2 linked regions of the Homo sapiens genome follow. The protein of the gene in region 1 interacts with the protein of each later gene in a pairwise test. Each region holds a gene or a part of one and is shown in the gene's direction. Other genes may lie near its edges. The genes, in order: BEX4 and PKNOX1.

Evidence for each region.
Region 2: the proteins of BEX4 (region 1) and PKNOX1 interact in a two-hybrid assay, tested with the Homo sapiens proteins (one large-scale study listed by BioGRID and IntAct).

Annotation. Positions count from the first base shown.
Region 1 is NC_000023.11:103,213,842-103,217,932, forward strand, and holds BEX4 (protein BEX4), read left to right. Parts: upstream 1-1,266; 5' UTR 1,267-1,397; intron 1,398-1,840; 5' UTR 1,841-1,923; intron 1,924-2,307; 5' UTR 2,308-2,312; coding exon 2,313-2,675; 3' UTR 2,676-3,405; downstream 3,406-4,091. UniProt on the Homo sapiens protein: May play a role in microtubule deacetylation by negatively regulating the SIRT2 deacetylase activity toward alpha-tubulin and thereby participate in the control of cell cycle progression and genomic stability.
Region 2 is NC_000021.9:43,008,975-43,012,788, forward strand, and holds part of PKNOX1 (homeobox protein PKNOX1), read left to right. Parts: intron 1-1,078; coding exon 1,079-1,250; intron 1,251-3,814. UniProt on the Homo sapiens protein: Activates transcription in the presence of PBX1A and HOXA1.

The DNA of each region.
Region 1 (4,091 bases):
AAACTATAATACAATTGGGTATTTGAACACAGATTAGACATAAAATGATATTAAGGAATTGTGAATTATTAAATGTGACAACAGTATTGTGGTTATATGCTAAAAAGAAGAAAACCCTTATCTTGTAGATACATACTTTGAAATATTTATGCCTAAAGTGATATTATGTCTAGAATTTGCTTCAGAAATAATTTTAAGGTTGGGAAGCGGGTAAGATAAAGACGAAATAAGATTGGCCATGAGTTGTTAACTGTGGAATCTGAGTGAGGACTAGTACATGGGGTTTGCATTATACTATTCCATTTTTCCAAATGTTCGAAATTTTCCATTAAAGTTAAGATAAAGTTAAACTATAAAGACTGTTTCTTAAACAAAAAAGGGGCCGGGCGCTCACGCCTGTAATCCCAGCACTTTGGGAGGCCGAGGCGGGCGGATCACGAGGTCAGGAAATCCAGACCATCCTGGCTAACACGGTGAAACCCCGTCTCTACTAAAAATACAAAAAATTAGCCGGGCGTGGTGGCGGGCGCCTGTAGTCCCAGCTACTCGGGAGGCTGAGGCAGGAGAATGGCGTGAGCCCGGGAGGCGGAGCTTGCAGTGAGCCGAGATCGCGCCACTGCACTCCAGCCTGGGCGACAGAGCGAGACTCTGCCCCACCCCCCAAAAAAAGGAACAGAACAGAAAGGTATTAAGAAGAATTAGAAAAAAAATCCACTGTCCTTGACTCATTTCCTGTCCCCCCCCAAACGTTCTGGTGTGGAGAAAAGGATGAGCATTGGTAACAAGTACCACAGTTTGCCATTGGGGTGGGCGGGACTGATGCTCTCTTTATTTAAATTTTTGACATCTTGCTCATCATAAATTTTCTTGCAATAATTGTTTTTTAAAATGTTGCATTAAAATGTTATTTTTCTTGACTGCTGAGGAATTTTGCACCCCTTTAAATTCTGCGCCCGCGTCCTGGTTGGGAGATGTGGGGAAAATCCTGGGAGCCCAGGACAGGGAGAGGCAAGTCCCCACAGAAGTGGGAATGGCCAACAGCTCCCTGAGAAGACAGCTTCCCTCTTGGGGAGGCAGAGGAAGTCCCAAGAATACACAAAGACAGGAGAGTGGAAGGGCCGGCCAGTCTGGAGATACTAAAAGAGACTCCGGATGAGGATAGGGGCTGACCCGAAAGCCCCGCCTGACTCCGGGCTGCAGGAGGGGGCGTGGGACGGGGGCGGAGCCGTTGGCGATGACAACAGCCCCACGTGACCGGCCAACACTGAGTGTTGTCTCGCTCTGGCGTCAGAGCCGTCGTGGCTCGTTCCATTCTCGGCGGTGGTACCTGCTCCCGGTGGCCCTGAGGACGTGTGGGCCAGGGGCGGCCCCGAAATTAGGAAGCGGAGGGGGAGCAGGTAAGGAACCCGGCGGGGGGTCCCTGGGGTTGGTGTGAGGGAGTGGCTCCGGCCTGCGGATGCCCACCCCGGGGGAGCCGTGCGGAGAAGCAATCGGTCCGCGATGCAGCCCCCGGGCCCCGCGGCGGGCCCGCGAGCCTTCCTTGAGCGGAGAGGTGCCCGGCCCGGAGGGAGCCGGCGGTCCTGGGGCTACGACCCTTCGGAAACACCTGCCTACGCCATCAGCGCAAGCTTTTCCGACACCCCTGCCCCGCACTTCTTGGTGCAGAAAATGGTGGTCAGCTTGCGGGGCGGGGCGGCTGAGGCGGGGGGCGAGGGTGGCGAGGAGGGCCAGGGCCAGGGCCAGGGCCAGGGCCTCGGGGCGGGGCGGGGGAGGGGCCGGATGGCGGTAGTTCCTAGCTAGCGTTCTGCTGCAGCAGCCCCCACTTCCCCCACCCCGGCAGTCTGCAGGTCTGCGGGGCTAAGTGTCGCGGCGGCGCACCTCGCGTCAAGAATCCGGAGGAGGAGACTGCAAGGATAGGCCCAGGTCGGTGCGAGGGTCGGTGGTGAGGCGGGGGCCGGAACGTGAGGAAAGCCCAGTCTGAGACCCTAATCCATGCCTTCACCCTCGCCCCCCTCTACCCCATGCAACCCTCCCCTTCCCACACGCCATCCTCGTCCTCCATTTTGCTGCCTGCGGAAGCCTGGAGATGGATCTACAGGGAAAATGGTGGGCTTTGCGGAAGGGAGGGGCTCGGATTGAGGGCACCCCACAGGGCATACTGGCTTCTCAGGTGGAAAAAAATGAAATGTTAGAGTATAAAGTCAAGTCCAGGGCTCTGAATTTTAAAAGGTGCCTAGTAGGGCCTCTGTCCTCAGTGCTTATCAGTCCACCAAGAATTCAGCCCATTTTCTCTCTCTTGTCTCCTAGGAGTAATGGAGTCCAAAGAGGAACTAGCGGCAAACAATCTCAACGGGGAAAATGCCCAACAAGAAAACGAAGGAGGGGAGCAGGCCCCCACGCAGAATGAAGAAGAATCCCGCCATTTGGGAGGGGGTGAAGGCCAGAAGCCTGGAGGAAATATCAGGCGGGGGCGAGTTAGGCGACTTGTCCCTAATTTTCGATGGGCCATACCTAATAGGCATATTGAGCACAATGAAGCGAGAGATGATGTAGAAAGGTTTGTAGGGCAGATGATGGAAATCAAGAGAAAGACTAGGGAACAGCAGATGAGGCACTATATGCGCTTCCAAACTCCTGAACCTGACAACCATTATGACTTTTGCCTCATACCTTGAATCCTAAAAGTTTTCGCTGAGGTTAATGTGAACACTGCTTTACAAGCTTGTATTTTTGTGATTTACTTTTTCTGTAAGCCTTTTGGGGTTTACACTTACCAGTTTCTAATGGAAATTAGAATTCTAATTGAATATTGTTTTGTCTCAGCCTAAAAGTTACGGTCAGCATGGCAATTCACCTATTTTAGGAAAAATACTCTTTTCATAATATGAAATGCATAAAGCAGTTCAAAAAGCAGTCTGTATTCCATCATCTTCCTTTTTCATTCCAGTCCTTATTTTTGTAAGTATTACTTTTCCTCCTCCGGCTACCTGGACTCAAAATCTCAGTTGTCTTTGACAGTTTTTTTCTTGTCCCTGACCAAAAAAGAATGATCATACCCAGAATTCAATGTTTGATATTTTAAGAATGTATGTTCTAGTGTTTTTCAGAGTGAGTCTACCATCTGTATAAAAACACCTTGGGGGCAGGCAGGGGCATTTAAAAATGTAGGACCTATCGTCCAGACTCACAGAGTGGGGCTCCAGAATCTCCATTTTTAACAAACTCTCTTAAGTAATTCTGATGTGTACCAAAATCAGTGCCATTGGTGTGTGTGTACGTAACTATATACATATGTGTGTGTGTGTATATATATAATGTGTCATAACCGTAAACAATAAACAATATCAAGATAAATCTGACTTTGATGGGCAAGTAATTAAAAAAGAAAAGTATGAGACCTTAAAATAAGACTGATGATTATAGGAGTGGTAGGGACAGTGGCAAAGTTATTCACTGTGCAAAGCAAAACATGCCTGAAGGTCACAGCCTGAGGAACTCAGAATTCATCACCCCTGTCAGCAGTTTCACATCCAGGATCTCATTTTATTCTTAGAACAACCTATAAAATCTGTATTGTTATCCCACTTTTACAGATGAGGTCACTGGGGCTTAGAGATGTTAAGTACCAAGGCTAACTCCTGCTGAATATCTTGGGGGTGGGGGAATCCAGCCTGGGCCATTTTCTATTGGACCTTATCATCTGGAGATGCAGAATATTTGACTTTTGTAACTTGATGACAAGCTGAGGATGGTAAAAGAGACTCAGCAAGAATGGGGCTGTTTTTCTATACACTGTTTTTCTACATCTCAAGTACACTTTAATTTTTAGAATATTGAGGGATAAAAAAAGTAAGATCCTCTAGTGTTGTTCAAAGTTAGGATTGCCACTCTATGGCTCTTGAAATCAGTTTTGTGGGTTACAACAAGCAATTTTTTAAAAAGAGAACAAAAGTCATCCTATCACCCGTGAGTAGTGTTAAGAATTGTTTTGGAGAAAATAATGTGTTCTATGTAGTAAATATTGCCACCTTTATGATGTATTTCTAACTAGATCACAGTGAAAAAAGAATGAAAATCACTTATTTGGTGCA
Region 2 (3,814 bases), on another chromosome or scaffold:
AGACACATTATGGCATCTCCATGCAATGCAAGAATATTTAGCAGTAAAAGGAATGAAGTGGCGGGCGCGGTGGCTCATGCCTGTAATCCCAGGACTTTGAGGGGCCAAGTCGGGCAGATCACTTTAGGTCAGGAGATCGAGACAAGCCTGGCCAAAATGGCGAAATGTTGTCTCTACTAAAACAAAAACTAGGCCAGGCATGGTGGCTCACGCCTGTAATCCCAGCACTTTGGGAGGCTGAGGCGGTTGGATCATCTGAGGTCAGGAGTTTGAGACCATCCTGACCAACGTGGAGAAACCCTGTCTCTAAAGATACAAAATTAGCCGAGTCATGGTGGTGCATGCCTGTAGTCCTAGCTACTTGGGAGGCTGAGGCAGGAGAATCGCTTGAACCCGAGAGGCGGAGGTTGTGGTGAACCGAGATCACGCCATTGCACTCCAGCCTGGGCAACAAGAGCGAAACTCCATCTCAAAAAATAAAAAAAATTAGCTGGGCATCATGGCGGGTGCCTGTAGTCCCGGCTACTTGGGGAGGCTGAGTAGGAGAATCGCTTAAACCTGGGAGGGCAGAGGTTGCAGTGACCCGAGATCGTGCCGCTGCACTCCAGCCTGGGCGACAGAGTGAGACTCCATCTCAAAAAAAAAAAAAAAAAAAAGGAATAAAGTACTGATACCCGTAAAACACTGGTAAGCCTTGGACACTTTATGCTGAGGGAAACAAGCCAGACACCACGGTCACAGGTTAGACGGTTCCCATTTAGACAGAATGTCTAGGAGAGGCAAATATATAGAGATAGCAAGTAGGTTCTAACAGGCTGGGGTCTGGGAAAAAATGGAGAATGACTGCTATTGGATACAGGGTTTCTTTGCGGGGATCATGGAAATGTTCCAAAGTTGACGGCGGCAATGCTGTGCAACTGTAAAAACCGTTGAATTGCATACTTTCAACGGGTGGACCGTGTGGCGTGTGCATTTTCACCCAACAGAGGTGTTAGTGAAGTAGTGCAGGCATACACGCAAAGACATTCTCACGGAGATGTAGAACGTAAATGGATTCTTTTTTTTCTTTTCTCCTCAGGCATCCACTATTTCCATTATTAGCTTTGTTGTTTGAAAAATGTGAACAATCTACACAGGGCTCTGAAGGCACAACTTCTGCCAGTTTTGATGTAGACATCGAAAATTTTGTAAGAAAGCAAGAGAAGGAAGGGAAACCTTTCTTTTGTGAAGATCCAGAAACTGATAATTTAGTAAGTAAAATAAATTTTATTTTTAGTTTTCAAAATGTGAAATCTGTTCATGAAATTTTAGGCTTCTAAGTAGAACTTTAGACTGCTTGTAGTTCTGCTAAAGGAGAGACTCATACAACTCTAAAAGAATTTTTATGGTGTGTGTAATGTGGATATCCCCAAGTCTTCCAGCCTTCTCTAGGTATCTTTTATTTATTTAGTTTTTATTTTTAGATTTATTTTATTTTTGTAGACACATCTTACTGTATTCCCCCAGATGGTCTCAAACTCCTGGCCTCAAGCAATCTTCCCTCCTCAGTCTCTCAAGGCCCAACCTACCCTTTCCTTTAAAAATAAAATAAAATAGGCCAGGCGTGGTGGCTCACACCTGTAATCCCAGCACTTTGGGAGGCCGAGGTGGGCAGATCACAAGGTCAGGAGTTCGAGACCAGCCTGGCCAACATCTGGTCTCGATGTTGGCCAAAATCCCATCTCTACTGAAAATACAAAATTAGCCAGGCATGGTGGCACATGCCTGTAGTCCCAGCTACTCAGGAGGCTGAGGCAGGAGAATCACTTGAACGCAGGAGGCGGAAGTTGCAGTGAGCCGAGATTGTGCCACTGCACTCCAGCCTGGGTGTCAGAGTGAGACTCTGTCTCAAAAAATAAAAATAAAATAAAATAAAATAAAATAATTTGAGCCTCCATGCCAAATGGACACGGGGATTCAGTTCTCTGCACAGTGTTTGTAAAGGTCCGTAGGGCTGGGGTGTTCGGGTGGCATGTCTGTGACCTGTGTCTGTCCTTGGCTTATCATGGACATGGACACAGACTTGAGCTGTATTCTCCAAGACAGCTCTGTCTTTTTTTTTTTTTTTTTTTGAGACGGAGTCTCGCTCTGTTGCCCAGGCTGGAGTGCAGTGGTGTGATCTCAGCTCACTGCAAGCTCCGCCTCCCAGGTTCAAGCCATTCTCCTGCCTCAGCCTCCCGAGTAGCTGGGACTACAGGCACCCGCCACCACGCCCGGCTAATTTTTTTTGTATTTTTAGTAGAGACGGGATTTCACCGTGTTAGCCAGGATAGTCTCGATCTCCTGATCTTGTGATCTGCCTGCCTCAGCCTCCCAAAGTGCAGGGATTACAGGTGTGAGCCACCACGCCCGGCGACAGCTCTGTCTTGAGGCTGACAGTGATTTGTGATGCCCTCCCCCCAGGGCCAGGGCTCCAAAATCCAGCGTTTTCTGTGCCCTCCAGAGGCAATGGAGAACATCTTGGTTCCGTCATCACTGGATTGCTCTGAATGAGCTGCACCTGAGGCACCTGTACAGCACTGTCAGCTTTGGGCAGACCACACTCTCTGGGTGTGCTCTCCTGCCAGAGTGTAACCACGTGTTTACTTCTCAGAGCTGGGTACACAAAGATCCGGCATCAGGGAACCTTCACTGGATTCCCTTCGAGCCATCTTGGTCCCATATCAAAACCCTGGTTAGGGCCTTCAACAGAAAAGGTTTTTGGAAAACTCATTTTTCCTGAATAAATTGCTGAGGTCTTAGTTTTTAAGAAAATTCTCATTATATACTCGATGCTTACCATGAAACAGATTTTGTGGGTGAGTTATCTGACTTGAATCTGTCTCCTCCTCTCTGAGATGAGACTAACAGTGCATGCTCTTTGGGTGAGGATCCGATGCTCTCTCCACCCCTGAGTCTGTGGTCCACATCCATCTTCCCATTGGCCCACACCTGGCTTGGCCCAGTGAGTAGAGCACAGGTGTCCTCTGCACCCCACTAGGCTGGCAGGGACCAAGGTTCTCTTGACTGGTGAGTGTTTAGCACAGGGCCTAGCAGAGTTTGACACTCCATCATTTTTGTTACTGAGTGATTCATTTATTCACTGCATAGATACCTACGAATTCCTACCACCAGATTTACAGGTGAAGGAGATGGGCTTCGGAGCTGCTGATTCATAGGCAGCTGGTGCTTATGAAAATGGCTGCATTATTGGTATTAGTTATCTATTGCTGTGGGACAAATTACCCCAAAATGTAGTTACTTAATATAAAACTATACAACTTTGGCCAGGCGTGGTGGCTCACGCCTGTAATCCCAGCACTTTGGGAGGCTGAGGCAGGTGGATCACCTGAGGTCAGGAGTTCGTGAACAGCCTGACCAACATGGTGAAACCCCATCTCTACTAAAAATACAAAAATTAGCTGGGCATGGTGGTGCACACCTGTAATCCCAGCTACTCAGGAGGCTGAGGCAGGAGAATCACTTGAACCCAGAAGGCAGAGGTTGTAGTGAGCTGAGATCGCACCACTGCACTTCAGCCTCCAGCTTGGGCAATAAGAGTGAAACTCTGTCTCAAAAAACAAAACAAAACAAAATGATATAACTTTTAGAAAAATCGCAAGAGAAAATCTTGAGGATCTAGAACTAGGCAAAGACACCAAAATGGAACTTTATGAAAATGTAGCACTAGCCTAGGGTGAGTGTGGATGTATCACTATTTGTGGATGTAGAAACAGGAGTAGATGAGGGTGAGTCACTTGTCCTGCCTGCCACAGAGCGAATCAGTGGAAGGGCT